Linked DNA regions of Homo sapiens: regions 1, 2, 3, 4 and 6 are each linked to region 5. The links come from fine-mapping of genetic effects on gene expression. A gene starts in region 5. Each other region holds a variant in brackets. All regions are shown on one strand. Distances are between the middles of the regions.

Region 1 (5,087 bases), 49 kb before region 5:
GCACTTAGAAAATACCTGTGTAGAAGCAGCAGTGGGGATGGTGGGATGCAGTGACCCAGCAGGCATTTCTAGCCCCACTTCGCTTCTAACACTTCTGCAGCTGCAAATTTTTTTTTTCCTTTTAAGAGACAAGGTCTCTGGCTGGGTGCGGTGGCTCACGCTTATAATCCCAGCACTTTGGGAGGCTGAGGTGGGTGGATCACGAGGTCAGGAGTTTGAGACTAGCCTGGCCAACATGGTGAAACCCTGTCTCTACTAAAAATACGAAAATTAGCCGGGCACGGTGGTGCACACCTGTAGTCCCAGCTACTCGGGAGGCTGAGGCAGGAGCATCACTGGAACCCGGGAGGCGGAGGTTGCAGTGAGCCGAGATCGTGCCAGTGCACTCCAGCCTGGGTGACAGAGCAAGACTCCGTCTCAAAAAAAAAAAGAGACAAGGTCTCACTCGTTGCCCAGGCTGGAGTGCAGTGGCATGATTATAGCTCACTGCAGCCTCCAACTCCTGGGTGCACCCTCCAACTCCCGGGCTCAAGTGATCCTCCAGCCTCAGCCTCCTGCGTAGCTGGGACTACAGGTGTGCACCACCATACCCACCTTATTTATTATTTTCTGGAGGGATCGGGTCTTGCTATGTTGCACAGGCTGGAGCAGCTGCCAATGTTAATTAAACCTTGGGATCTCCTCAGAGGATTTAACTGGCACCAGGTGGAAAGATTTCATCTGGTCCAACAGGATCACTGTACAGATGGGAAAACTGAGGCCCTGAGAGATGAGGCAGTAGGCGTAGGAACACCATTCTGGATGGCCCCTGAGCTGTTTTCAAAGCACCTCTGAAAGAGTGCTTTCAAGATCTGAAATGAGAAAGTAGTAGATCCTCAAGGGAGATGAAGTTTGACCTGGCACTACATTCTGAAAAATTTGAAAAACTGACTCCTTCTCAAATACTTTAAACCAGGATTTTCACATGAGGCCTGAACACCAGTCCAGGTGGGTGGGAGGTATAGATGACTAAGAGAATGTGAGAGGGGCCGTGTGAACAGGAACAGGTAAGACCAGTAAATCCTGGGAACTCCCAACTCACCTTGCCTTGCTCCAGGGACAAGCACTGGACCTGAGGAGTTTAGGGAGGTCCCTGGCAAATGCCTCCAGGAGGAAACAGAGTCTTCCTGCTGCCTGTCAGGACGGCTGACCCTGGGCCTGATCTCAGCTAATTCAGCAGCTCAGGGGGAGGACACCACCCCCGTATCTGCTCTGCATCTCAAATACACCAAGAGGGCTGGCCAGGCAGAGGGATTGCTATTGATTTTCACTTGTGCGGGCTGACCTAACAAAACCAATCCATCAAGTGCCTGTCTGCCTCTGCTTCAGACTCTCATCCTAAGCACGTGCAAATAAATTGCACCAGCATCCAGGGTGATTTGTCAAGGTCCAGCCAGGCATGGGCCCTGGCTTCCACTGATAGGATGGGGCTCCAGGCTAGGCTGGGCTAGGGTCAGCCCAGTCAATGCCCCGCTGTTGACTCGCCATTGAGTGACAACACGCAGTGTGGCCTGGCATCTGCTGCCACGCTAGGAACTGGTTGGCCATGCCTGGGAAGGGGCTTTGAGGAAACAGGCCCAAGTCCCACTCACTTTGACAGGGCTTGGCAGCGACATTCTCACTTGTTTCTTAAGGTTTCTGTCCGAACTCTAGATTTGGGGGGATTTATTACAATGTAGATACAACCATGAGGTGCTGAGTTTGGGTACTGCCTCTGCCACTGGCTGAATGTCCTTGGGCCAGTTGTGAGATGGAGATGACACCACCTACAGGGGTCTAGAACCCTGTAAAGGCCAGGGTCCAATCCCTGTTCTGCCACTTCCTAGCTGTGGCCGGGGCAGGTGCCTTCAGCCCTCGGTGCCTCATTTTCCTTATCTGTACTACCGGGCTGAAAATGGTACCTACCTCTTACAGTGGAGCTGTCATAACTGAATGAGAAAATGCAAAGGACCACAGGGGCTCACCCCACCCAGCCCTTCATTCCACTAGCAAGGACTGGAGGCTCAGAGAAGGGGGTGATGTTCTGGGGTCACACAGCAAGGCAGAGCAGCATCAGAGGGGTTACAGGAGCCACAAGCAGGAGAGGATGACGGAGAGAGTACAGTGACCATCCTGCCTTCCTGTCCTCCAGCTGGCAGCTGTCCCTGAAGAATGAGACACAGGGAATGTGGGTCATGGACATACACAGATC[G/A]TTTGAAAGGGTCAAAAATTTTATTAGCAGGACTTTTTGTGTTTTTGAATATACAGGTTTCCTGCTGTCCAGGGTAAAGGGGAAGTGGTGTCTTGTGGCCCGAGGTTTGGGGCGCTTGCCTTGGGACTCCATCCCCATCTCTTTCCCGCTAGCGCAGCTGGGGGAAGGTGCCTGCTTGCCGGCCCCACGGATTCTTCGGCTGTGGCATAAGGCACTGTGTGTTCTGCAGGAAGGCGCTCATGGCTGGCTGGTAGATGAGAGGCGGCCTTCTCAGGGGCTGCAAAGCTGAGGCTGTTGAGGGGTTGAGTTGAACTTGGGGCCCCTAGTGAGGAGGCCCCAGGCGATGGGAGCACGGCCTGGTGAGTCTGGTGCCGCTGCCTCCCCACTGGCCCTGCACCAGGTCTCAGGATGGGATCATGCCTTTGCTCCTCTTGCGGTCGGCCATGGTTCTCCGGTTGTGGTTGGCTCTTGTCGCCTTGTTGGCTTCCTTCTTCCTGCGTTCCTGGGTTGTCTCGCGGCTCTGCCCATGGCCTCGGGGGCTGCCGGCCACTGCTGTTGAGCTGTCATGCCGGTACCTGAGGGAGGAACAACCCACCCCACGAGAACCTGTCAGCCGGAAGAGGCTCTGGCGGGAGAGCCCACAGCCTGCCTTGGTGTTCACTGGGAGAGGACACAGACTGGGCCTGGTCACTCATGTCCCAACTTCAGATGGAAGGAGAGATGGAGCCCAGCAGGGGCAGGGCCCTGGGGCTCTGACCAGCCCCGAGCCTGGTGTTTTCTCTTCTCTGGGCCTTGCTTCCAGGTCCGCCCATTGCTACGTGTAGCGGAGGAACAGCTAGAGAGCTGACACAGCCTACAGGAGACGGGGAGGGCTTCAGGTGGGTCTCCTCCTTTCTCCCTCTGGGGCCACATGCTGTAGCTGAGACATTACTCCTGTTCTCTACCCTAGGGCTTTGCCTGGCAGCCTCCAAAGACCAAGTGCACTCACAGATGTGACCTAGGGCCCTTTCAGACCATCTTGACCACTGGGATTTGCCAGAGCTCCGCACTCAGGGGGCTGGGATGGATGAGAAGTCAGGGTTGCTCTGCTCCCTGCTCAACAACCTTCTGTGGCTCCCCACTGCCTTCAGAATGAAATCCAAATGCCTTCCCTGTGGCCAGGCCTCCTGAACCCAGCAGACAGTGCTGCATGAAGCCTAGGGCCGGGATGCGGGAGTGGGCTTCTACTCCTGGCTTGGCCTTAGGTGGAGGCAGATCCTTGGCCCCTCTCAATGTTTCCTCACTGGGAAGATGCGGGGCCTGGATGAGGAGTCTCTGGGTACTGATCTCAGCTCCCCTCGAAGATCCCTCTCCTGACCACGCCTGCTTTCTTACTTTTCTGCCCTCATATGACAAACTCCTCTGAGCCCTTTTCACCCTTAGGGGCCCAACTCAAGTGCCCGTCACTTCCATACCTCTATCAGCCAGAAAGGATGTGTCTGTGTCTGTCTGAGCTCTCTCACATTTACACTCTGCCTGATATCAGCTAGCCCTGGACACGCTGGGTGATAAATCCCCTCCTGTGTTCACCAAGTAATGGTTATGAGTGGGGACCCTGGAGCTGAGCCATCTGGGCTCCATCTTTGCTACATCACCTACTAGCTGTGTGACTTCTGGCTGGTTACTTAACGTCTCTGGGCCTGAGTTTTTTCATCTGTCAAATAAGGATAGTGATAATGGTAGCTACTTCACTGGGTTGTCGTGAGAACTAAATACACGTGGAGCACTTAGGGTGTACGTGTGGGTTTCCTGGGTGGCTGGCTAGGCCCTCCCCAGATGGTGGGAGGGGTCCCCCCAGAAGCAGCCCCTTGAATGCTCACCCTTTCTTGGCGAGAAAGGCCATGCGCCTGGCTTCTGCCTTCTCTCTCAGCACTGCAGGGTCCTGAACAAAATGGTCGGGCTGTGGAAAGGAGAGGAGACCAAATCTGGAGTCAGGAGCTGCCACATTTTCCTAAGCGGCGATGAGGCCCTGCTCAAGTGAAGCTTGTCGATGCCTCCATGCCAGGTGTGGGGGGAAGCTGCAGCCTGGCAGAGCGACGCCCAGGAATGGAGTGGGATTACTGTGGTCTGAGGTTTCCATTAGGAGCCCCCTGCCCCACCTCTTCCCTGAGCGGGTGGCAGCTGAAGGGACTGAGGCTTCCTGGACAGGCTGGTAGAGTGGATAGACCATAGTTATGGCATAACAATGACAAATGGGAGTGGTGGGGAAGCCAGGATGGCCACTGTGAGAGGCTGTGCAGGGCCCTGAAGACTGCGGGAGCCACCGTGGGAGCTAAGTGGTCCCGGGAGCTGCAGGCCTAGGCCTCACTGTGGCACCACTAGCAGCATGTGTGGGAGTGCCCACTCTCAAGGACAGCCTTCTCTGCCAATAGTGCAAGGAAAAACTGGGACCTAGGGACCACAGACAGGCTTTGGTGGCCAGTAGCTTTAAAAAGGAAAAAAAAAGGCCAGACACTGTAGTTTACATCTGTAATCCCAGCACTTTGGGAGGTCAAGGTGGGAGGATCACTTGAGTCCAGGAGTTTGAGACCAGCCTGGACAACACTGTGAGATCCCATCTCTACAAAAACACATAAAAACTAGCCAGGCGTGGTGGTGTGAGCCCATAATCCCAGCTACTAGGGAAGCTGAGGTGGGAGGATTGCTTGGGCCCAGGAGTTTGAGGCTGTAGTAAGCCATGACTGCACCACTGCACCCCAGCCTAGGCGACAAAGCGAGACTCTGTCTCTAAAAAGAAGAAGAAGAAGAAGGCTGGGTGTGGTGGCTCATGCCTGTAATCCCAGCACTTTGGGAGGCCGAGGCAGGTGGATCACCTGAG
Region 2 (5,000 bases), 110 kb before region 5:
GTCATCAGGCCTCGGTCTTCTGCTCCGTACAGTGTGGAGGGCGACCCCCCACCCAGTCTGGTCTGGCCTGGACCTGGAGGGGGGCTCCTTCCCCCTCTGTCTTCCCTGAACCAAAAGAGGTCTGTGCCGCCTGTCAGCCCATTAGTCTGGAGCAAGCTGCCTCACGTGGCTGCCATTAGCAAGTGTTGGCCGGTGTTAAGGATCTAAGGATCCGAGCCTGGGGGAGGAGGCGCAGCGGGATGGAGATGGTGGGGGAGAGGGGGATGAAAGGAATGGGGGCGGGTGGGGAAGCCGTCAGCAGCCGCGGGGGCCGGGGAGATCCAGCATCCTCCCCTGCACGTGGTCCCCACCACACGGGGTCGTTGTGAGCACACCAGGAGAGGCTGTGAGAGCCTGGCGCAATCAGATCCCAAGAGGTCACTGCTGGGGGGCCTTGAGCCCTGCTTTACTGCCCTGCTCAGCCTGCCCAGAGGTCCCAGAATACGGCACCCTTGTGCACCCTCGGGCCATGCTCTCACCAGATCTGCAGGCTCTGGGTTGGGCTCTCAAGGCCATGCTCAGGCTGCAGGGTCGGTGATCCTGGGGGTCTGGAAAGGGGGTCTGTTGGGGACCGGGGTGAAGTCCCAGCCTACTCCATTCTCTCCTCAGAGATCCGAGAGGCCTTCAAGGTGTTTGACCGTGACGGCAATGGCTTCATCTCCAAGCAGGAGCTGGGCACAGCCATGCGCTCACTGGGTTACATGCCCAACGAGGTGGAGCTGGAGGTCATCATCCAGCGGCTGGACATGGATGGTGAGCACCCCCCCGCCTCGGTTTCCCCACCTGGCATCTGGGCCCTGGGGGTGGGGCAGGGGCTGGGGCCTGAGCTGCTGAGGCTGCATCCAAATTGGGTCTCTCGCTCCCCTGACTCCCACCCTCAAAGTCCGTGGCAGGTTGCAGCCCGGTCTGGCCCCATTTCTCAGCCTGGAGAATTGAGGCCAGAGAGGTAGTGACAGTCCCAGCCACATGCAGGGCTCAGAGATGGCTCCTTTCACTCTGTGTTGAGAAGTTTTAAAGTACAGAGAAGTAAAAGGATGCAATAAATACTCCAGTTCCCACCACCTGAGATAAAATGACTACTTGAGTTGTGTTTGCCACCTGGCATTTTATTAAGGAAAAGTTCATAAGGAATAGTGATGCCAAGCCCCCTCTTTATCCCACCCGGGCCCTTCTTCTCCTCTTCTCCATCCAGAGGCCAGGTGACAGCCTTGGCAGGTTGCCCCACTCTGAGCTTCAGTTCCTGTCTATATGGTGGAGGATGGCCCACCCCAGGATGGCCGCAGGGTGCTGGGAGCAACGGAGGGTTCTGGGTGAAATAGGAGGGTCACGGCCCACCTGCTGTCTACCTCCACCTCCCCTTGTAAGGCCTCATCACACTGGGTGGCTTCAGCGTCAGCCCAGAGCCTGGCACTTGGTAGATGCCCCTGACACTGACTCAAGGCTCAGAGAAGGCGGGCACCTGCCTAAGGCCACCCGGTAGGCCCAAGGTGTATCAAGACTCCATCCCAGGACCTCTGGGCCCTGGGCTGCAGGCCTGGGCCCTACCCACTGATTGATTGGACCTGTGCCTCCACCAGGTGATGGTCAAGTGGACTTTGAGGAGTTTGTGACCCTTCTGGGACCCAAACTCTCCACCTCAGGGATCCCAGAGAAGTTCCATGGCACCGACTTTGATACTGTCTTCTGGAAGGTATCCCCTGGCTAGTTGGGACCCAGGGCTGTGCACACTGTGGAGTTCTGTTCTGGAGCCAGTGAATGGCTGGGCCCACACTGTAAAGGGGGGATGACCACTTCAGGCTTGTGTCCACTGGACATTTCACCTCTCAGAGGGCCATGGGCTCCCTGGGGAGGCCGGTGTTGGTCAAGGACTCTCTGGGGGAATGGAGCAAGTGTTTTCCAGCCCCCCAGAATCTAGAGGCCTGTCACCGGGTCTGTATGGCCGTGGGGTGCTGGGTGGGGGCTGCGGTGGCTCTCAGAGCACCGTGTTGTCCCCCTCCGCAAGTGCGACATGCAGAAGCTGACGGTGGATGAGCTGAAGCGGCTGCTCTACGACACCTTCTGCGAGCACCTGTCCATGAAGGACATAGAGAACATCATCATGACGGAGGAGGAGAGCCACCTGGGCACAGCCGAGGAGTGTCCCGTGGATGTGGAGAGTGAGTGGCTGGCCCTGGAACCCCACGGGTGGGCCCAGTGACTTGGCCAGGGGGACGCACGGGGTGGGGAGAGTCTGCAGAGGGGGGCTGGGGGCCTCCTTGCCTGTCCTAAGCCTCTGTCCCATTGGGGCACCCCATGGGATGAGCCCATGTGCCGAAGGGCAGGCGGCTCCTGACTCCATCGCTTTGATGTCCCCTTCTGTCTCCCCGGTGCTCCCGGCGGGCGGCCACAGCCTGCTCCAACCAGCAGATCCGCCAGACTTGCGTGCGCAAGAGTCTCATCTGCGCCTTCGCCATCGCCTTCATCATCAGTGTCATGCTCATTGCGGCCAACCAGGTGCTGCGCAGTGGCATGAAGTAGACGCCACCTGGATGCCCCATCCACCGCATGCGGTGCC[C/T]GTGGCCCGCCCCACACCACCGCCGCCTGCAGACCTCTCCCTTGGCCGGCTCCCTGGGCCGCCATCTGCGTGTACTTCAGGGCCTGGGTATCCAGCGAGCCCTCCCCACCCACCCACGGTCCTCACCTGGAGCTGTGGCCTGGCTGTGGAGGGCCGGGTGGTGGCTCTGAGGATGGTCCCCAGCCCCACCCTGTCCCCACCCTGGCCTGTAAGGAGCACTCACTCTTCCTACCATCCAGGGGCTCCTGGGAAATTAAGGAGGGATTTGCACAGGAACCCCCAGGACCCAGTCGCTGCTGTGGTCCCTTGGGCAGGAGCGGGCACCCTGTGCCTTGAGACAGCAGCCTATCTGGGGCCACACAGCCAACCCAGCCCTGGTCCCTGAGGTCTGCCCAGGGCACAGGGCACAGGCAGGGACAGAAAGCCTTCTCCTGGGGGAGGGTGGGAAGCCAGGGTGTCCTGGGCCTTGCTGCCTGGCATAGCCTGAGGAGGCCCCTGGTCTTCTCCTTGGGCCCCTTCCTCTGACCCTCGTTGGACCCCAACCCAGACCCCCTTTTCTCCATGTACCTGCTGGGCCAGCCCATTTCACAGGTGAGGAACCCGAGGCTCAGGGCCCCGAGACTTGGCCTCAGTTCTTCCTTCCACAGGGATTTTCAGGAAAGGCAGAAGCTCGTGGAGGATGGGCATCTGAGGTGGCCCTGCAGCCCCCCACCTTCTGGCCCTCCCACCAGAGGCCCAGCTACCAAGGCCACATTGTCCACCACCCCAGCCTAGAGCCTAGAACTGTAGTCCAGCTGAGGAAGGAGGCAGAGCTGGGGCCTGAAGGCTCTGAGCAGCCTCCAGCCAGGGGGCTCCTCCAGGGCTGAACTTTGGGAGGGCCCCTGTACTACCTCCTGGGCCAAGAAACTGGCACAGCCCCACACTGTCAGTGCCAAGAGGCTGCGCCAGGCCACTCTCTCAGCCCAGGGCCTGCCCTCCTGTCCTCCCACTTCTCTACGCCCTCAAGGTTGGAGACCCCGCTCCCATGCCCCAGCTGTGCCATCCCAAATACTTGGGCAGCAGCTCAGCATGGGCAGACATGGGGGCTGTGGATTCTTCCAGGGCGGGGATGGCAGATGGAGCCCTTGGGCTCCTTGGGCCTAGAGCCACTTCTTACCAGGCAACGGGCACAGCCACCCTGGCACACCCTCTGCCTGGCCGTGCTGAACCTCTGCTGGTCCCAAGGGAGAAGGGAGTGAGCGTGGGTCACCTGGGGAAAATCTCATCTGATTCCCTCCTTGCCCGACCTCTGCTAGGGGCTGGAGAACAGAGCTCAGAGCACCCAGTGTAGGGAAACACAGCCAGACCACTGTGGTGACAGACTTTCTTTATAAACATTTGGAAGTTTTCTCCCCCATCTTCTTAAGAAGCAGGGGGGCAGGTGGAGGAGAGTGAGGGGAGAGCTGCCCGGTGCAGACCCAGGACGAGGGCTGCACTTGGTGTGGCCGTGTCCTGAGCCTCAGTGAGGCTGGGCAGATGGTCTCGGAGCCTCCATGGGGCGTAGCAGGAACCGGGCTTGGCTTCCTATTGTGACTGATGAGAAAAGTGACCACGTGGGGGTCAGTCGGGGGCAAGGGGCTCAGCCCCACTGGACTCTGGGCTGCAGAGGCCACCCCCCAGGTGGGGGTGCCCGCAGGGATGGAGGCAGCTCCTGAACTGGTGGCCAGCCCACGGGGTACTGGAAGACAGTGGTTCTGATGGGTTCAGCCCTAGAGAGAGAGAGAGAAGCGGGGAGAATAAGAGTGCACTACAGCCCAGGCTTATGCCACCCCCAGCCCACCTGCCTCACCACCCTGGCTGTGGGGAGGGTCAGCTGCCTGCATGACTTTTCTGGAAGGCAGAGCCTCGAAAATAGGCAGACCGTTTGAGCCAGCGACCTCACCTCTAGGAACTGAGCCCAAGGAAATAGCGGGGTTGCAGGCAGACATTGAGCTGCGAGACAATGGGAATAACCTTCGTGTCCACCTGTGGGGGACTGATTCAATACATATGCACGTCCACAGCAGAGAATGCCATGCGGCCTGTGTAAGAATTAAGGCAGATTTATATGCACTGATGAGGAAAGACATACTGTGTGATAGGGAGAAAAAGCAGCTTATAAAATAATGTATATAGCATGATACTATTTTTGTTTAAAAATATATAAAATATATAAATGCATAAAAAAATCCTGGAAGACACAGCAAAATGTTAACAGTGGTCCTATCTGAGTGGTGCCATTATGGGTGACTTTTTTACTCCTTTATATTTCTCAAAAGTTTTACGAGCACACAAGCCTTTGAAATCAGAAAAAAACATTGTCTAAATTTTTTTTTAAAGCCTAATTTCTCATGCTACTCACTGTCCTCCTCCTCAACGTCCACCCCGA
Region 3 (5,108 bases), 130 kb after region 5:
TATCACATTTAGCACAATTTGTAATTATTACCATCTTTTTCTGTCTTCTGCGATGGTATATAAGTTGTATTAATGCAGAGCTAACAGTGTCATACTGTCTAACACATACTAGATTATTGGTAAATTTTGACTGACTGCAGTGCAGAAAGAACATCATTTTACAGAATCTATTTGGTATAGAAATGGAAGGCCTTATTTCTGGGTGAAGACTATGTTTAAATTGAGACTTTTAATGCCGAGTGGCAAATCTTTGTCTTGGTATTTCTGTACTCATTAAAAAATTAGAGTAGGCCAGGTGTGGTGGCTCACACACTTTGGGAGGCCAAGGCAGGCAGATCACTTGAGGCCAGAAATTTGAGACCAGCCTGATCAACATGGTGAAACCCTGTCTCTACTAAAAATACAAAAATTAGCCAGGCATGGTGGCATATGCCTGTAATCCCAGCTACTTGAGAGGCTGAGACACCAGAATCACTTGAATCCGGGAGGCAGAGGTTGCAGTGAGCTGAGATCGCACCACTGCACTCCAGCCTGAGCGATAGAGCGAGACTCTGTCTCAAAAACAAAACAAAACAAAACAAATTAGATTTGACTGGGAAGATAGCTTATGTATATATATATAATGTGACTGCAGATTGAGAGTTTATTTTGTAATTGGAATTTGATTTCTAGTTCAGTGTCACTACAGATGAGTACATTTTAGTTGGGACATCCGGGATGCTTGTGAGAGTTTTTTCAGATTTCTCTGAAAAAAATCTGAAAGACGTAACAGTGCATATTGATAGGCTTACTGTATAAACAGTGGTTTCATGAGAGATAAAACTTTGACTCTTTAAATTAATTCTTCAATAACTGGAGGTTTTGAGGTAGAATTGCCATTATGGTTAAAAAAACTTTATGTGAAAATTTCAAATATATAAAAGTAGAGAAAATAGTTTAATAAATCTCCATTAACTTATCTCACTGGTCTTCAAAAGTTACCAACTCATGACCCATCTTGTTTCAGAGGTACTCCTACTCATTCTGCCTACTCCTTGGTATATAACTTTATGTATTTTATAGTTAAAAGATAAATTCTTTTTAAAAACCCATCACCACACACAAAAACCTATAACCACAGTAACATTGTCAATTATATAGAAAATTAATAACTCCTTAATATCATCAGATATTTAGTATGTGGTCAGATTTCCCTAATAGATGTCTCAGCTTATACTTTGAATAAGAATCCAAATAAGATCTATATATTGCAGTTGGTTGACATGGTCACTTAAGTCTCTCTTAATTCTGTAGGTTTCCCTTCTATGTCGGTCTTTTGTCTTGCTATTTAAAGAATAGGGGTTATTTTCCTGTAGTTTTCCATAGACTAGATTATTATTTGCATCTTGTATTTCATTAGCAGTTGTAAAATAGTATTATCAAATTCTTTTCTTTGTATATTAGGTAGAATTCTTCCCTCATCAACTACTTCATTCTATACTAGTTCATTTTGTGTAAGAAAGGCGGGATAGATACTTGATTCTTTCCCCTTACTTGCTAGTTTTCAAAAATAAAAGGTTAGTTCCTTAACATCTTCCACTGGTGACCTGTAGGGGTGTGCGTGTGTGTGTGTGTGTGTGTGTGTGTGTGTGTGTGTGTGTGTGTGTCTGTCTCTGTGTGTGTGTGAGAGAGAGAATGTTTCTTTATGAACTCATATTTAAACATCCTGAAACCCAATCCATTGCATTTAACCATTTTGCTCAAATTATTTCATTTTTAGCTAGTGAGTCTCTTCAAATTGACTCCCAATTATTTCTGACTTACCCTCAGTAGTCTTTTATATGTTTCTTACATTCCAGTTTAATATGATGTTTCAGAATCAAATTGTACATTTTCTTTTCTAGACCTGGAATTGGTTATATTTTCTTTCAGGTGCCCCATCTTCTTTTGAAGTGGGAATTAGTCTTTAGGGACCACAGTCTAGGGGCTTAGAATGCTCATTGCTGCTGGGTTGATACTGTAACTTTTTTGCAGCGTTTATTTTTATCTTATGAAGAGTTTGATTATATTGTTACTCTTCACCTCTGTTGTGTGTGTGTGTGTGTGTGTGTGTGTGTGTGTGTGTGTGCATGCGCGCGCGCGCGCATGTTTTTTAGAGACAAGGTCTTGCTCTGTCACTCAGGCTGGAGTGCAGTAGCATAAGCTCACTGCAGCCTTGAACTCCTGAGCTCAAGGGATCCTTCCACATCAGCCTCCCAAGTGGCTAGGACTACAGGTGTGCACAACCACCTAATTTTTTTTTTTTTTCAGTAGAGACAGTCTTGCTATGTTGCCCAGGCTGGCGTTGAACTCTGGGGCTCAAGCTGTCTTCCTGTCCTGGCCTCCCAAATTGCTAGGATTATAAGAGTGAGCCACTGCACATGGCTTCTGTATTTTTTTTTTTTTGAGCTATAAGTCATATCACATAAAATCCACCCTTTTAAAGTATACAATTCAGTGGTTTTTAGTATAGTCATAAAGCTGTAGAACCATTACCATTACCTAATTCCAAACATTTCATCACCCTGCAAAGGTACCTTGTACCCATTAGCAGTCACTCCCTATTCTTCCCTCAACCTGGCTCCTGGCAACCACTAATCTACTTTCTGTCTCTGTGGATTTACCTTTTCTGGACATCTCATACAAATGGAATCACACAATATATGGCCTTTTGTGCCCCAGGTTCTCTCATTTAGCATAATGTTTTCATCTATGTGTGTCATGTATCAGTATTTTATTCCATTTTATTGCTGGATAACTCCATTATATATA[C/CTGTG]TGTGTGTGTGTGTGTGTGTGTGTGTGTGTATTTTTTGTTTGTTTATCCATTCACATTTTGTTTGTCCATTCATTGATTGATGCATATTTGGGTTGTTTGCACTTTTGGCCATCATGAATAATGCTGTTACGAAAATTTGTGTAGAAGTTTTTATGTGGACATACCTTGTCAGTTCTCTTAGGTATATACCCAGGAGTGGAACTGATGGGACATATGATGACTCTAAACTTTTTTGGGAACTGCCACACTTTTCCTCAGAGGTTGTACCACTTTACATTCCTGCCGGCAGTGTATGGGGGTTTCACCTTCACATTCCATCTACATCTGACATTAGTATCTTCCTCACTGGAGTTATATTTTGTTATTTAATAGTTTTGCAAAATGCATTAAATTCACTTCCATTTAAATTGTTTAAGATACAGCAGTTTGAATGTGTCAATGATGCTATCTTTAGAAATTTTATTCTAAAACACAAATATCTTTTGTGTAATATTAGGACAGTTTTTTAAAAGTAATTCAGTATGTTTCTTTTTTGAAAAGGTTCTTTATAACAGTATCCCGTTCTTTTAATAAGTTCATACCCTCAAATTTTCTCTGCCTTTGCCCTTCTCCTTTTTAATTCCAATAAGTGCCTTTTTGCACATCTTTACCTTCCTATCTAAAGTAGCATTTCTGTTACACCATCACCAAACTCTGCTTAATTTTCTTTGCAGCAGTTGCCTACTGCTTAACATTAGTTATCTGTTTCTTTGTTTCTAATGAGAAAGACCAACAATAAAATCAAGTTCCATGAATTTCTGTTCACAGTGGTGTCCCCAAAGTCTACAACAGTGCATGGAGTGTAGAAAATATTGAATAAATATTTATTGAAAAGAATGAATAAATGAGATAATTTTACATTAGTTTCAGTTCTTGAGCTAGGCCAAATCACAAAAGTTTGGCTTGGTTTGAAGAGTGGTTAAGAATGATGACTCCAACTTGGTCTGTTACTGAACCATAAGGTTCTTCCTCATCCTTCCAGCCTCTAAAAAATGGTGCACCCAAAACCCCTGTCCTTAGTCATCTTAGCCTCTCCATTTATACTTGCTCCTGCATTTGGCTTTAATGCCATTCACACACTGATGTCTCCCACATTTATGTTTATATCTCTAGGCTCCATCTTCTTGATCTCTAGTCTGGTTTAACTAGCACTTTACTTGGCATCTTTGTTTGGATATGTGATAGGTTTTCAAACATAATGTGTCTAAAATGGAAACTTTAATTTCTTGTTCCTTGTCCGTTGAGCTGTCTCTGCATGGCACGAGAAGAATAGATTTTTCTTACAATGCTCTTCATCAATAAATAGAAAATCCTTGCTTCCGGTTGCTGACACAAAAAGCTTGACTTCTCTTTTTCTATCCTATTTAATTAATCCACTCAAATCCTATGGGCAGTATTTTCAAAGTATATCCAGAATCAGTAACATCCCACCACTTCTATCTCTACTACCTTTTCATTGCTATATTGTCTCTTGCTGGGGTTAATGACGCTTTCTAATTGGTCTTCTTTTGCCCCTTACCCCCAGTAGCCTTGACTGTTCTCTACCCAACAGCCAAAATGATTCTTTTTTTTGTTTTTTTGGTTTTTTTTTGAGACTGAGTCTCACACTGTCACCTGGGCTGGATGTGCAATGGCGTGATCTCGGCTCACTGCAACCTCTGCCTCCCAGGTTCACGTTATTCTCCTGTCTTAGCCTCCCGAGTAGCTGGGACTACAGGCACACACCCCCATGCCCTGCTAATTTTTTGTATTTTTAGTAGAGATGGGGTTTCACTATGTTGGCCAGGCTGGTCTCGAACTCCTGACCTCGTGATCTGCCTGCCTTGGCCTCCCAGAATGCTGGGATTACAGGCGTGAGCCACCACACCCGGCCAAAATGATTCTTTAGAGTAAGTCATCTCCTACCATTCCTCTGCTCAAAATGCCTCAACACAATCTGGGCCTTGCTACTGCTTTTATGTTCTCTTGTTCCCTTGCTTACATTGCCCTTAAAAGAGTTTTATGCTGCACATTGAAGCCCAGACTCCCTGAAATATCCTGTGTTACAGAAGCTTAGCAAACTAGAAATGTTGGTTTTGCATGAGACTGTTCAAAGAAAAGAGCAACTTACTTACTCTTTGTATAAGCCTATTTTTGGGTTTCTAGTTGGATATTCTTTCCCCCTTTTTTGTTCTTATAAAACCAGGTAAAGGTATTAGTACAGATTGTAAGTTTTTAGAAGAGCATAGAATATTTGGGTAATAAGGCAAATTTATTTTTCCTATTTTGCTCGTAAGTC
Region 4 (5,108 bases), 350 kb after region 5:
AGAAGCAGTGGGTTATGACAGTCTACTCTAAATCTGGCACAGTACCTGTGATCCCTCTGCCTGGGCTCTGGGATAGTTTGGAGGAGGAATGGAGGGTTCCCTTGAGGGACCAGCCCATTCATCATCAGTGGTTCTAGAGAGATCCTGATCCCAGGAACCAGGAGAGCCTGGACCAGTTCTCTGGCCCCTCCTCCAGGCATTTGGGTTACTGTCGAGCAAAAGCGAGCTTCGTCGGAACCTAGTTTATGCTTAACTGAAACTTGGGCATTAGTCAGAAACAACTCAGCCTTCAAAATGAGGCCCACAGGGAAGCTGTTTTTATTAATGAAACTCATTTATGATTATAGTATATAAAGCAATCATTTGCATGCTATGAACTGTTTAAGAGATTATGGTGATGATACAATGTGTAGAGAGGTAGAAAAGTTACAGAGTTTACAAGACGATAAACCACCTTTCAATAACTTACTATTGTTTAGATTTCAAGTGCTTCTTAAAATGGATAAGCTAAATAAACTCTAACATAGTTCTAGCTAAAAGTCATTAGTCTAACAGTTCTGGTGGAAACTGTTAAACCAATTCTGCAACCAAAAAGATAAACAGCTAAAAACTGCCAGGTATCAGTATTATTGTAATATTCCCTTTATCAAAAACCTATAACTGAAATTTATAGGTAAGAGTTTACAGTAAGCAGCAGGTACCTGGAAACTTGTCAGTTAAGGTTTCCCTTTATAGAAGAACCTCTGCTGTAAGCTTTTCAGCCCTCTAAAGCCAGTAAAATTAAAAAAAAAAAAATAAAAAGAGCTTTCACTATTAGTTTCTAAGGAAATTATATAAAGGTCATAATACTAAGAGAAAAGCTTTAAATTGTCATTTCCAATAGGACATAAGCCTCCTAAGAAAAAAACAACCTTGTGTGTTTTTCTTGGGGGGGGAGGCATATATAAATAACAATCAAAAATCTTTTTCTTTCTTGATTTAATTTTAAAGGTGATAGTTAACTAAATCACTTTAAAATGACTTCCTGCTGCTCCCCCAACCTCCTCAAAATTAAGAATACAACAAATATTTGCATAGGTTTATTATTCACATTTAATCATGAATAATTCACTTTGTACAGACAGCTGGGTAAACAAGAGATTTGGAGTTTCCTTTTTCTAGAATATTTTTCCATTGGCTGAAAGGAAACAGCATCAGTGGTGATTTTATATGATTTTCAGTGCCATCTTGTTTTCTCTCCTCTGGATAGGAGACCCCTCCTCCCTCCCTCCTTCTGTCCTTTTTTTTTTTTTTTTCTGTTTACTTATTTCTGCCAGCTTTTGGGCTACACCTCATCAACATAACATTTTTCATTACAAAATGAAAAAATAGCTCAATCATTCAGTTTTTTATTCTGCAAGACAACATAAAGTGTTTGTTTCTCACTTTCCACAATATTAGAGTTTTTTTAAACTGTGGGTTTGCTTTTGTGTGAAGACCCTCTTACTGATGGGAAAATATCTTTCAGAACTAATTCTGCCTCATCATTACCTCCTCCATCTTTTCCTATCAGCCATTAACAATTTCACAATTATTTGACTGTCTGCCACAAAGTTGGTTCTCATTTCCCTCTGCACCTCCCAGGCCTACGTGAGGAAGTGGAGCACGTATCACTGAACATAGGTTTACCCAAGGCTATCAACTCTTGGGCAAGGGGGGCATAATTTACCAAAGGTCAAGGATCCTTTCAGTTCTGTGAACGTCATTAATCAAATTGCGATAGTATAACCTGTGGTTTAGGAGACAATAAGGCTTGCCATAATTCATCTACGACCAAAGAAGGGGTTGGGGGTGGGGGGGTCATCGTATATCTTTGGGAAATCCCTGCATTTTGTCATGGCCTCTGGGAAGTAAGAATTTTCGACACCCACCAAATGTCAAGCATCCACTCTAACTACGTTAGTTGAGGACAAACATTGGCTTTGGGATGTATGTGCCCTCTATTCAGCAACACATATAATAAAATGTGAATGTCGTAGAATGGCAAGTAGCATTCTAGAGAAAATTAACCATACTTTGACTAAATGAAAAATTAATGCTTTCTTCATTTAACACTTAGGGTTTACTGTATGCTAGATGTGTTCTAACCATGTCATACATATTAACTCTTTAATTCCCATAACAACCCTTTGAGATAGGTACAATCCTTATCCCCATTTTACAGATATGGAAACTGAGGCACAGAGAAATTAAGTAATTTGCTTAATGTCACCACAGGAAGTGGTAAAGGTAGGATTTGAACCAGGCAGTCTGACTCCAAAGTCTGTGCTTTTAACCACCATGCTTTGCTATGAGTATAATATCTGCTTATGGCAAAATAAGAAAAGCACAAAGAAGAAAAAAATTACCCATAGTCCCACTCCTTACTTTAGTATATTTCCT[TTGTG/T]TGTGTGTGTGTGTGTGTGTGTGTGTGTGTATTTTTTTCCGTTTTTTTCAATTAACTATGCTTTGTGAATATTCTCTCATAGAAGATACTGATTTGATTGAACATTCAGATCATTTTCTTAGTCTACTGTGTTAAGTACTGGCCCAGCTAAGTTTGGAAGCACTTATGATTGGTGGAATGGAGTGGGGTAGAGGACTGCTGATTTAGCAGATGCATTTTTTCCCCAAGCCAAAGAGCTGCCCTGAAAATGGGCCAAATATAATTTCTTTTAAGCAACCTGAAAAAAGTGTTTCAGCCTAGAGACATACTGTGACTTTTTCCTTCAAAGCATTTCATTTACGTTCACTTTATAAAGTTCAGTTTTCTTAGGGGCAAGGTAGCAGGGGCAGTGGGGGTGGTGTGGGGGAGCCGCTGTGAGTCTTAATGCAAAGAGGAATGTAGGCTAGTCAACAGGAAACCCAAAGTGCTTGATACAGCACAGTGACCTCTAATTGTACCTTGGCATGGCTGCTTTCTCTTTCTTTGATAGGTGTTGCAAAAATATAATAAATATAATAATATATCTTTTTTAAAAAAAACATTTTTCTGGTAAACAAAACTGTTGTTATATGCCAAGACAATAAGCATCTCTGAAGCCAAGACAGTAGTGGTCATTGCTATGGCCAGCTACAGCTTTTGGCCAAGTCACATGCCATCCTGTCAACAGCCAAAGAGGTAAACAGCATAGATATGTGCTGACCTAACCTCAAAAACTCTTGGGAGCACAAGGAAATTGGCTTGAAAAGACTCTCTCTTTTTCCTCCTTGTTAATTGAATTTCTGTCTCTAATTAAAGAGACAAAAACAGAAAACAGTATTCAAAAGGGAAAGTCAAAGAATAATCCCCATCTCTGGAGAAAAAAAAAAATCATTGAATCATCAGAAATATGGCTGCATTGATTCTCACTCTTTCCCTGAGCTGTTTACCCATTTTCAGGTGAGGAAGTGAAGAGGAGGGCCAAGGGCCAACTTTTTCAAAGGGCCCTCTCTGGGAATTACTTTTGTATGTACATAAATTTCCACAATAAGTATCTTCTGAAGTTTTCATGCAACTGAGTTGTTCTTTCAAACTTCTTATCCAATGTTCTAACTTGAATTGTGCTACCAGAAAATCAGGTGTATCTTAATTGCTAAGTCAAAGTTGGCTTCTTTTGGAAACCAAAACTCACTAACTTGAGCCCCTAAACTCACCCCACCTCCTTATTTTTTCCTTTAAAATACCTTTTTCCCCACTTCCTACAGTCACTAGTCTTAGGTCCCCTTGTAACCATTGCAGGCAGCTGCTGTTCGAAATTTTAAAAATGAAATTTGGGCCGGGTGCGGTGGCTCATGCCTGTAATCCCAGCACTTTGGGAGGCCAAAGAGGGCAGATTGCTTGAGCCTAGAAGTTCAAGACCAGCCTGGGCAACATGGTGAAACCCTATCTCTACAAAAAGTACAAAAATTAGCCTGTAGTCACAGCTACTCAGGAGGCTGATGTGGGAGGATCACTTGAGTCCAGGAGGTCAAGGCTTCAGTGAGCTGTGATCATGCCTGAGTGACACAGCAAGAGCCTGCCTCAAAAAAAAAAAAAAAGTTTTTTTCATTAACCCGAAAACTAAGGTCAAATCTCTTTCTGTTTCCAGTGTTTTGAAAACTAGTTCTAATTCTTTCTGTCTGAGTCTTCGCTTCTAGTCTTGGGGGAATGACAAGGCATTGGGACAGGAAACTAATAAGCCCTTCCAACCAACAGCCTATTAGCTGTTGAAGGTTACCACTTCATCCAGATTCCAAAGAGACTCCTTCAAGGAAGGATCTGGGGACCAGTGAGTACCTAGGAGCAGACTAGCAATCTTTCTCCAGAGAAGGCTTTAGTAGGTAGTAACTACAACTCACCCTAATATGTTATATTAGAGCTCACCACTTACAGAGGACTTACAAAGGGTTTCTGATGCGTATAATTGCATTGAAGTTTCACCATTATCTCCTGGGGGTGGGGGATGGGTGGGTAGTGACTATTGTACATAGCCTGTGTTGGCTGCCCCATATCTCACAGTTTATGGAGGACCTGATCTGAGTGCACCTGTACCACGTACATGGCACGTGTACCATGGCCTTGCTCCCTCCTTGCCCTGAGTCTTCCTCCTTCATTCCTTGCCCAGCTCAGCTATAGTGTCTTATATTTCAGTCAAAAGCTGTCTTTCTCCAAGACATACTGATCAGTTAGCTTAAGCTGTGAACGTTTGGTTTTGGTGTCCCCCTACCCAAAGAGGAGTCTTCAGGGCTCCTCTCCTGACACCCTGCTGCCTGCTGTTCCTGTGCTCTCACACCATGCCTCCCATCTCCCAGGACTCCCTGAGGCCACACCCCACCCAGGCCTGCTGTCTTGGAAAACCACTCATGACTTGAGCTTGAACCTTTTCTCCCACAATTAAACTCACTTGCCCTACGTCTCCTCTCTCTAAGTCCTACTAGGGGTCCAATTTGTGCTAAGAGACTACTAGCTGGCAATGGTATACTATTCTAATACCCCAGTCCTCTCAGGACCACTTATTAGCCATGTGGGCTTGGGTGAGCAATTCAGCACCCCCTGAGATTCACCTGTGAAATGGGGATAATCATTCTTTACAAGTGAGGACCAAGTGAAATAATTTGGAATGCTATAT
Region 5 (5,101 bases):
GCTGTAACAGGAAATGTCCAAAACTACAGTATAGTAGAGAAAGGAAGGATATTACAAAGAAGGTGATCTATAACCTGGATGTTGAAGGATGGGGGAAAAGGTGACATTCCAAGCAGAGAGCAAGCATGAACAAAGGCTCAGAGTCTTAAAATGTGTGGCTTTGGGTCGGGTGAGGTGGCTTCCGCCTGCAATCAGCACTTTGGGAAGCCACGGAAGGAGAATTGCTTGAGCCCAGGAGATTGAGGTTGCAATGAGCCATGATACGTCACTGAACTCCAGCCTAGGGGACACAGTGAGACCCTGTCTAAAAAGTGTGGCTTTGAAGGAAGAGGGAGACATTTGGTGTTACTGAAAACACAGGTCAGATAGGGGATGACAGAAGTGAAGAGAGAAGAGAAGCTGGATAGGGAAGACAGGACCAGTTTAAAAAGAGCCTCAAAATAGCTTGAACCCGGGAGGCGAAGGTTGCAGTGAGCCGAGATCACGCCATTGCACTCCAGCCTGGGCGACAGAGCGAGACTCCATCTCAAAAAAAAAAAAAAAAAAAAAAAGCCTCAATGCTACACTAAAGATTTTAGTATTTCACCTGAAGGCAGTGAGGAGTCATTTAAGTATGAGACAGACATGACCAGAAAGAGATGATGATAACCTGGTGGCAGAAAAGACCTTTAATAAACCACGAGAGAGCAAACAGTACGTTAATCATTTCATTCATTCCTTTTTTTTTGAGATGGAGTCTCACTCTGTCACCCAGGCTAGAGTGCAGAGGAACGATCTCGGCTCACTGCCACCTCTGTCTCCCGGGTTCAAGAGATTCTCCTGCCTCAGCCTCCCGAGTAGCTGGGAATACAGGCATACGCCTGGCTAATTTTTGTATTTTTAGTAGAGAGAGGGTTTTGCCATGCTGGCCAGGCTGGTCTGGAACTCCTGACCTCAGGTGATCCGCCCGCCTTGGCTTCCCAAAATGCTGGGATTACAGGCATGAGTCACTGCCCGGCCATTCAAATATTTTTGAACACCTATTATGTGGCAGGCACTGATGCCCAGAGAATATTAAGGTGGGCAAATAACAAACCTGCTCCTGCCCTTCACAGAGCTTACAGTCATAATGGGGAAAGACAGATACTTTTCCAATTAGCCATACAAACAAATAAAAACCAATACCATGATGTAGCTATGTAGATAAGGCTCATGAAGCTGTGGCAGCATTTAAAAGAGAGACCTGGCTTGAGGAAGAAGTGATGTCAAGGAAGACCTGAGTTTTTGTCTAAAGCACGGGTACAAATTAAGTAGGCAGGGCTGGGCGCGATGGCTCACGCCTGTAATCCCAGCGCTTTGGGAGGCCAAGGCGGGCGGATCACGAGGCCAGGAGATCGAGACCATCCTGGCTAGCAAGGTGAAACCCCGTCTCTACCGAAAAAAAAAAAAAAAATTAGCAGGGCGTGGTGGTGCATGCCTGTAATCCTAGCTACTCAGGAGGCTGAGGCAGGAGAATCGCTTGAACCCGGGAGGCGGAGGTTGCAGTGGGACGAGATCACGCCACTGCACTCCAGCCTGGGCGACAGAGCAAGACCCCGTCTTGGGGGGAAAAAATAAATTAACTGGACAATCTGAACTTTGAGCTCCAAAAGGACAAACAATAATCATGACTATGTCTGTGCCCACCACTGTATTCCCCTGCCAGGCAGGACAGCAAAAGCCAAAAGCTAAGAAAGGGAGGGGGAGCTCCCTACAAGCACCCAATTGCAATATGGCCTGGGAGCATCCCCGGGGCTACTGCTCCCTCAGCCTCTTTGTCATCATTCCTCTAGTCTCTCAATTAAATACTACTCTCCTCAGAGACCTTCTGATGGCTCTGCCTATAGTATCCACTCTCCCAGTTACTGTCATAGCTTTAATGACCTTGTGCATTTGCTTGTCGTTGACCATCTCCTCCCACTAGACTGTAAGCTCCATGAGGGCAGAAGCCTTGTCTGTCTTGCTTTCTTTGTATCCCCAATGTCTAGATCTGTGTCTGGCACATAGGAAGCACTCCACAAATATTTGCTGAACGAATGAATGAACCCTGAGGAAACTGAAGCCCCGGGTGTGAGGACGTGGGGGGATCGTGGCTGGTCCAACGCCACTCTGGGGCCGAACTTCGAACCCGTGGCTCCTGACCCTGGCGGCCAAGTCTCGAGAGGCGGCTCACAACCCCTCAGGTAGCGTAAGCGTGGGCCCCGCAATGGAGGCCAGAGGATGGGAGAGCCAAGGCTGCCCAAGGCATAGCCGCGGCTCCTCCGGGGTCCCTTGCCCTGCATCTGGCAGGGACCAGCCACGCACTCACCTCGGCGGCTCCACCACCGGCTCTGTGCCGCCGCCGCCGCCGCCGCCGCCGACCACGGTGACAGCTCCCTGAGCGCCCGCACTTCCGGGGTCAAACTGCGATTCCGCAGGAGCAGACAGGAAGTCTCGGCCTGGCCCCGCCCCCAGAGCCGAGCAAACTACCGCCGGGAAGCCGGACCCGGGTTGCGCCTCTCTTCTTAAGACTCCGCCCCACACTCGGCGTCTGTAGCCACGCCCCCTTCCCCTCCTATCTCCCTTCCTGCTTAAGCAGAGAATAGGTCAGCTGAGGGCGGGCTGTGTGATTACACCTCTCGGGAAATCCAAGTATGGCACCTGAGAGGACGTCTCGGAATCCCAGGCTTCCACCTTCTGCCCGACCTCCTTAGTCACCGTTTTACATATTTAATCCAGAAGAGAAATTTTAACAAGTCAAAAGCACGAACATAATGTTAAGCAGATGTACAAGTACAGACTGCGATTTCATTTACGGGAAATTCTAGAACAGACAGAACTCATGAGTAGTGATGGTGTTAAAATTGGTGGTTTCCTCTGGGGCTGTGGGCTGGGAGGGGCCACAAGTGAGGCTGGGGTCACCCCCTGTCTTCATCTCGGTGGTAGCCATGTAGATGTGTTCACTTTGGAAAATTCATCAAATTGTACGCTTAAGATTTGTGCATTTTTCTGTATGTATGCAATACAGTTTTGTTCTGTTTTGTTTAAGGAAGTTACAAGTATAGCTATCCTAAGAGAAGGATGCAATTTTTTCTACAGAATGTCTCAGGTAATGTAGGTTTAGTGGTTCCTAAGCCTGACTATGGATCAGAATCATCACAGAAAACTTGTTAAGAACACACATTCCTGGCTTCATCTCAGTGCCTGGTACACAGTAAGAATTCAAAACCAACCACCATCATTATTGGGGTGTTATAGAAGCCCCCGAATGGAGAACACAACCCCACCCTGGGATTGTGAAATATTTCCCAGGACACTCCTGCCAACCCCTGCTATCTGCACTAGGGCTACAAGGAATGCTTAGTTCAGTGCCTGTCTTCAAGGGGCTTACAGGATAGGAAGTGCAAGAAAACCAATAGCAATGAGTCAGTGTGATGAATGCAGGGTGCTAAGGAAATAGGAGAGATGGGCTGTAAACCAGAAATGAGATGAGAGGGGCTGGATATTATATTAGTTTTGTATTGCTGCATAACATATTACCACAAACTTATAACAACACACTGCTTGCCACTTATAACAAACACATTTATTTATTTATTTATTTTGAGACAGAGTCTCACTCTGTCACCAGGCTGGAGTGCAGTGGTGTGATCTTGGCTCACTGTAACCTCTGCCTCCCGGAGGTTACAGTGGGTTCAAGCGATTCTCCTGCCTCAGCCTCCCAAGTAGGCAGGACTACAGGCATGAGCCACCAGGCCCAGCTAATTTTTGTATTTTTAGTAGAGACGGAGTTTCACCATGTTGGCCAGGATGGTCTCGATCTCTTGACGTCGTGATCCGCCTGCCTCAGCCTTCCAAAGTGCTGGGGTTACAGGCGTGAGCCACCACACCTGGCCAACAAACATATTTATTATCTCACATTTTCTGTGGGCCAGGAATCTGAGGATGGCATAGCTGGCTCCTCTGCATCAGGGTCACCCACAAGACTGCAATCAAGATATCGGCCAGGGCTGGAGTCTCATTTAAAGGCTCAACTCAAAAAGGATCTGCTTCCCATGTCTAGTGGCTAAATTCAGTTCCTTAATGGTTGTTGGACTAAGGGTCTCAGTTCCTAGCTGGATTTTGGCTAAAGGCTTGTCACGTAGGCTTCTCCAGTGTAGCAGCCTGCTTCATCAAAGCATGCAAGCCTAAAAGTTAATAGGGAAGCCAAGAGTGGTGGCACATGCTTATGGTTCCAGCAGGTTGGGAGGCTGAAGCAGGAGGATTGTTTGCGCCTAGGAGTTCAAATTGAGCCTGAGCAACATAGCAAGACCCAGTCTCTAAAAATTAAAAATAAATAAATAAATAAAAGAAGGCAATAGGGGCCGGGCACCGTGGCTCATGCCTATAATCCCAACACTTCGGGGGGCTAAGGTGGGAAGATTGCTTGAGCCCAGAAGTCTGAGGCCATCTTAGGCAACATAGCGAGACTTCGTCTCTACAAAAAAAAATTTAAAATTAGCCAGGCATGCTGGTGCATGCCTGTAGTCCCAGCTACTTAGGAGGTCGAGGCAGGAGAATTGCTTGAGCCCAGGAGTTCGAGGCTGCAGTTAGCTGTGATCACACCACTGCACTCCAGCCTGCACAACAGAGCAAGACCCTGTCTCAAACAAACAAAAGGAGGCAATAGGAGATTCTACTAAGAAGAGAGAAATTACAACCTCATGTAACCTAATCAAGAAAGTGACATCAGTTTTGCCATGTTCTATTTGTTAGTAGCAAGTCACAGGATTTGCCCACAGGGGATTACACAAGGGCATGAATACCAAAAGATGTGAATCAATGGAGGCCATTCTAGAGTCTGCCTGCCACAGATACTTGGAGGATGCATATCAACCCCAGGTCTGCAGCAGAGGAAGTAGAGGTGCAGAGAGATAAAGACAGTTGTGATAATAATGACCACATTTGTCAAACCCTTGCTTCATCCCAGGCACTGGAATAAGCATTTTACACATATTATCTCTTTGACTTTTTTTTTTTTTTAAATGAGATGGAGTCTCACTCTGTTACCCAGGCTGGAGTGCAGTGGCACGATCTTGGTTCACTGCAACCTCCGCCTCCCAGG
Region 6 (5,000 bases), 32 kb before region 5:
AGAGTCCTGGCCTTGGTGGCCAATCAAGACAGCCACAGATTCGGCCAGTCCTGGAAAAGCCTGGAGAGAAGGCACCAGATCCGAGGTTTCTACACTTGTTCAGTGGAATCCTGGAGCCCCACGGAGGGGCTTCCAAGAAGGCCAAACCATGGGACTTGGCACTGTTCCCAGTTGCAACCAAAGGAGCTCCACTTTTATCTATTTAGAGGAGAGCTCCGGGAAGGGCTCATGGAAACGTTCATGGAAAGTTTCGTCTCTTCATTTTATAGAGGGGAAGCTAAGGCTTCGATAGTTGAAGCAACTTGCTCTCTCCTCACACACAGTCCAGCATGCCCCCAGCTTGGGACCCTCTAAAGGCAGCACAGAGCTGACCAGTTGCTTGAGGCTGTCTATTCCCCAAAAAAACTTTTTCCCTGAGTATAAAAGCAAAGAAGGGAGGTTTCCTGCTGCCCCAGCCTCTCAGATAGGGCCAAGGAGGGACAAGCGAAGAGGGAAAAGCGCCACTCAGACACATACCTCCTCTTCCTCCGAGTTCTCCGGATGTGATGATGCTTGACTGACTGCCTCTGCTGTCACCGTGACCCCGTTAGGCTCCCCATTAGGCTCCTCAATCACCGATGGGTCTTTAGCATCTGTGGCTTTCCGTCTGTCCACCCCTTCCCATGCACTCTCGACTGCCTGGAGGATGTAGGCAGTCCGCGTCTCGTCCCTGTGAGGACTTGTTAAGGGGTCTGTCTTAAGCTCCTAGCTCTGAAGCAGCATAATTTCTCAGTCCCTCCCCAGCATCTGACCACATGGTTCCTGCCAGGGGCTTTCTGGGCTATATCTAAGTGGTATAGCCCACGGGCACCTGGGCTGCATGGAAAAATGGGCCAGACTACAGCCACTCTGGCCTCACAACCTAGTGCCTTTCACTCAGCAGAAAGCAGCTCTGAGTAAAGACAGGGCCAGGGCTGCCATCAGAGTGTCCTGGGGCACAGGTATGGACGAGCCAGCAGCTCCTCTTTTGTACTGACTGCCAGGAGGAGGGCGTGGTAGGGCCACTGCCACTGGGCTTCCTGTCCAACCAGCTGAGGGCATTCTGCAAAGGCTGTGGGCCATCAGGTTTCCCTGAAGCAGGACTGAGCAATCTACTGCAACCACCAAAAATGACCCATAAGCTGGCTGCTCCTCCCTGTCCTTCCTCCTTGTTAACAACCCTGGGCACTGTCAAGCCAGAAATCTGAGAGTCCCCTTAGACTCCCTCACTGCTTCTTGTCCAAACCCTCATCATCCATGCTTGGATGCCAGCAACAGCCTCCTCACTGGCCCGAGCCTCACGGTGGTCCTGGGCCAGTCCATTCTCTTCCCTGGGCCAGACAGAGCTTTTCCAAAGTATAGAACTGCCCATGTCACTTCCTGCTTCACAACCTTCCGCGCTCCCCAGCGCTTGCAGGACAGAGCCCAAACTTCTTAGTGATGGTCACCCCAGGGCTGTGCACGTTGCTGGCCTTCACCTCACCTGCAACACCCCAATTCCTCCTCTTGGGAGACCCCTCCTTAAGGACTGCCCCCTGTACTCTATACACGTCTGTGGCTCTAAGGAGCCTGTTTTCTCTGTCCTCTGTCCACTGCGAACATTCTTGTCCTTGTCCTTGCTCCTGGCTTGGTGCTCTCCCATTCTTTCTGCTGTTCTTCTGCTTGGACATCATTTCCATCTGAGACCCCCACCCAGAGCTCTGCTGGGTGAGGCGCCACCTCTGGTTTCCTGCCCTCTGAAATCTTCCCACGTGACACTCTATCTAACTGCCTGTTTACTTGTCCACCTCCCCTCCTGCTGTGAGGAGGGGCTGAGTCCATCTTGGTCACATAGGCCCAGATACTCAGGAAACACAGACGGAAAATAGCACTGCATCTCCCCTGCCCCAAGCATCAGAGCAGCCATCTCCTCTAGAAAAGGCAAGGCTGGGACCTTGGCAGGCCACCTCGGACAGCTGGCTGACCCATGCGTTCTGGGGCTAAACCTCTTTCCACTCCTCTGGGTTCCAGCAGCCTGTCTCACCTCTGACCTAGTCAAGCTGGGCCCTGTCGTAGTGGGCTATGGTAGAAGGATACAAGACTGATGAGGCCTGCTGCAGCAAGCTGATGTCTTCGGCCACGGGGAAGAGTGCATCATAGTCCCGGAGGAACCTGCAGGCAGATGAGAGCAGATGGGATGGACAGAGCTGGGGCCACAGGAATGCTGTGCTGCTGCAGGCCACTCCCTGTGTTTGCAGCCCGACCTTATTAGAGCTGTGGTGGGCCTATAGCGGGGGTCTATCATGTAAGGCCTCTTGGGGACCTGTGGGAGGGTCATGGGCCCAGGCCAGCTCAGCCACACTCACCTCTTCTCCTGCAGCAAGGAGCTGAAGATCTGAAGGAACTCTTCGATGAAGCCCTGAATGTTGTCACAGCTAGAACAAGACACCAGGGAAGATGAGCTCATGCAATGCAAGATGAGCTGCAGCTCCTTTACACACCCGCTGCCCCTCTTTAAGGCTGGGGCCCAGTGGAGGAATGAGGCATTTTTCTTGGTTTCTCATCTCTGTTCAGCCAACCCCAGTGCAGTGGAGGAAGCCAAGATGAAATAATGGAAACGCTCCTGAAGGGCTTGGGGAGGAGACTCTTCCACCAGGAGGCAATTC[G/C]TGAGGGCTTACCTGCTTTCTAGGATGGGAAGGAGGCAGATCTGGTTCAGGATGATGTGGAAAATCTCCATTAGCTTCTTCCTGGAATGGGAGAGCCTCTGCCACAGGTCACCAAGAAGCCTAGGCCAGAGAGAAAAAAGACACAGGTTTAGGAGACAAAAAGGCCCTGAGGGGCCAGGTGCAGTGGTTTACACCTGAAACCCTAGCATCTTGGGAATCTGAGGTGGGAGGATCACTTGAGCCCCAGGAGTTTGAGACCAGCCTGAGCAACTAAGTGAAATCCTGTCTCTACAAAAAATACAAAAAATTAGTCAAGTGTGGTGATGCAGGCCTGTAGTTCCAGCTCCTGGGGAGGCTAAGGCAGGGGGATCGCATTCGCCTGGGAGGTCAAGGCTGCAGTGAGCCATGATGGTGCCATTCCAGCCTGGGTGACAGAGCAAGACCCTGTCTCAAAAAAAAAAAAAAAAAAAAAAAAAGGGAAAAGAAAAAGAAAAAGAAAAAAAGGCACAAAGGGAGCTTCTCCCCAGCAGTTGCAGGTGCCTCCCTGGAGCAGAGAAGGCCTCACAATTCACTGCTGAGAGCAGCTGGCAAAAGCCATAGGCCCAGAGAAGATAGCTGCTTCCAGGGCTGCTTCTCAGTTCAAACGGTGGGTCAGGAACCAGCAGGCTGAGTACCAAGAGCATGGAGTAACAGCTGAGGGAAGGGCTTCAATGCAGGGCCCAGCCATCATGGTATTTTGGGGGATTGGGTTAATAGACATAATTGCCTTAGTACAAGCAGGACTTTGGGTCAAGTCTCCTTCACGGTGTTTAGTAACACTTAACTCTAGTTGTTGCAGTCTTTCTTATTAGGTCTTCATACAAGTCTACAGAGAACATATATTTTTTTTAATATGCTAAGAGTTTAAAAAAAAATGCAGTTCAAGACCAGCCTGGCCAACACGTCAAAACCCCATCTCTACAAAAAATACAAAAATTAGCCAGGTGTGGTGGCACACGCCTATAATCCCAGCTACTCGGGAGACTGAAGTGGGAGGATTGATTGATGTCAGGAGGTCAAGGCTGCAGTGAGCTGTGACTGCACCACTACACTCCAGCCTGGGTGACAGAGCAAGACCCTGTCTCAAACAACAACAACAACAACAAAAAAAAAAACAAATGCAGAGGTCAGGAAGTGGCTAGATAGGGATGCAGAAGCTCAAAGCTGCACAGTCCCTGGTCCCACCCACTTGTCTTAGAGATAGGGATGCTAATGCCCAGGGAAGGCAGGGCCCTGCTCGGGCCTCTCTGTCCCACAACAACATTCTTAATTTTGTCCCCGCCTCACTTGCTATCTTCAAGCCTCCTCTTCTTAATTGCAGACTCCATTTCGGGAATTGCTGCTTCGTAGAAGGAAGCTAGTCTGTGCAGGCACACACAGGGAAAATGTTGGATTAGTTCATAAATACCACACTTCATAAGAACATCAAAGCAAACCCCAGGGAGTGGGAAGGCCCATTTCTTTTTCCACACAATTTTCTCCAGGGACCCCTTGGTTCTTCCCTGAGCTCACCCCAGACTGACCCACTAGGGCTGGTCCCAGGAACAGCTCATAAGAAGTGACCTATAGCCATGTCCCTCATTCAGATGGGCAACTGAGGCCCAGATAGGCTCATACTAACAGAGGAATCAGAAGGCCACTCGGAACCCACTGAAGTTTGAGAAGCAGATCCAAGATTACTTGCTTGTAATTTTCTTGCTCAAAAACTGTCAGTTAGCCAGGCACAGTGGCTCATGCCTGTAATCCCAGCACTTTGTGGGGCTGAGGCAGGAAGATTGCTTGAGCCAGGAGCTCAAGATCAGCCTGGGAAACAGGCTGGTGAAACTCCATCTCTACAAAAAATACAAAAATTAGCCAGGCATGGTGGTCCACACCTGTAGCCCCAGCTACTTGGGAGGCTGAGGCAGTAGGCCAGGAGGTCAAGGCTATAGTGAGCCATGATCACACCACTACATTCCAGCCTGAGTGACAGTGAGACCCTATCTCAAAAAAAAAAAAAAAAAAAATTGTTCTGGCTGGGTGCGGTGGCTCACGCCTGTAATCCTAGCACTCTGGGAGACCGAGATGGGTGGATTACTTAGAGGTCAGGAGTTTGAGACCAGCCTGGCCAACATGGTGAAGCCCCGTCTCTACTAAAAATACAAAAATTAGCCAGAAGTGGTGGTGCACGCCTGTAATCTCAGCTACTCAGGAGGCTGAGGCAGGAGAATTGCTTGAACCTGGGAGGTGGAGGTTGCAGTGAGCCAAGATCGCCCCCCACTGAACTCCAGCCTGGGCAACAGAGTGAGACTCTGTCTC

Which allele goes with the higher level. Positions count from the first base shown, and alleles are read on the strand shown. Sizes are in standard deviations (SD) of each study's normalised expression. Not every link is listed here.
For the expression in cerebral cortex of the gene that starts at base 2,423 in region 5, allele T in region 2 goes with a higher level than allele C (small effect, 0.33 SD a copy in GTEx).

Evidence for each region.
Region 1: its variant is fine-mapped to the expression of ASCC2 in whole blood (TOPMed, PIP above 0.99).
Region 2: its variant is fine-mapped to the expression of ASCC2 in cerebral cortex (GTEx, PIP 0.92).
Region 3: its variant is fine-mapped to the expression of ASCC2 in whole blood (INTERVAL, PIP above 0.99).
Region 4: its variant is fine-mapped to the expression of ASCC2 in whole blood (INTERVAL, PIP above 0.99).
Region 6: its variant is fine-mapped to the expression of ASCC2 in whole blood (INTERVAL, PIP 0.99).

The regions. Positions count from the first base shown.
Region 1 is chr22:29,786,380-29,791,466 of GRCh38, forward strand. ASCC2 (activating signal cointegrator 1 complex subunit 2) reads right to left here. Exons shown (of 20, transcript NM_032204.5): 19 at 4,090-4,169; 20 at 2,232-2,805. The coding sequence ends at 2,634. Among named protein-coding and RNA genes, the nearest start is that of UQCR10, 22 kb to the left of the region's middle. The variant G/A (reference allele first, on the strand shown) is at 2,231.
Region 2 is chr22:29,727,014-29,732,013 of GRCh38, forward strand. It overlaps CABP7 (calcium binding protein 7), which reads left to right. Exons shown (of 5, transcript NM_182527.3): 2 at 649-792; 3 at 1,617-1,729; 4 at 2,042-2,195; 5 at 2,429-4,820. The coding sequence ends at 2,556. It overlaps ZMAT5 (zinc finger matrin-type 5), which reads right to left. Exons shown (of 6, transcript NM_001003692.2): 6 at 3,943-4,341. The coding sequence ends at 4,212. Among named protein-coding and RNA genes, the nearest start is that of CABP7, 9.5 kb to the left of the region's middle. The variant C/T (reference allele first, on the strand shown) is at 2,594.
Region 3 is chr22:29,965,127-29,970,234 of GRCh38, forward strand. The region is part of intron 2 of MTMR3 (myotubularin related protein 3); the gene reads left to right. Among named protein-coding and RNA genes, the nearest start is that of MIR6818, 39 kb to the right of the region's middle. The variant C/CTGTG (reference allele first, on the strand shown) is at 2,791.
Region 4 is chr22:30,185,080-30,190,187 of GRCh38, forward strand. All of the region lies in intron 2 of LOC105372988 (a long non-coding RNA gene), which reads right to left. It also overlaps a transcript of HORMAD2 not described here. Among named protein-coding and RNA genes, the nearest start is that of LIF-AS1, 52 kb to the right of the region's middle. The variant TTGTG/T (reference allele first, on the strand shown) is at 2,422.
Region 5 is chr22:29,835,852-29,840,952 of GRCh38, forward strand. It overlaps ASCC2 (activating signal cointegrator 1 complex subunit 2), which reads right to left and starts at 2,423. Exons shown (of 20, transcript NM_032204.5): 1 at 2,327-2,423. RefSeq lists an enhancer at 2,696-2,755.
Region 6 is chr22:29,804,122-29,809,121 of GRCh38, forward strand. ASCC2 (activating signal cointegrator 1 complex subunit 2) reads right to left here. Exons shown (of 20, transcript NM_032204.5): 9 at 3,990-4,064; 10 at 2,676-2,783; 11 at 2,364-2,432; 12 at 2,095-2,169; 13 at 517-709. Among named protein-coding and RNA genes, the nearest start is that of ASCC2, 32 kb to the right of the region's middle. The variant G/C (reference allele first, on the strand shown) is at 2,664.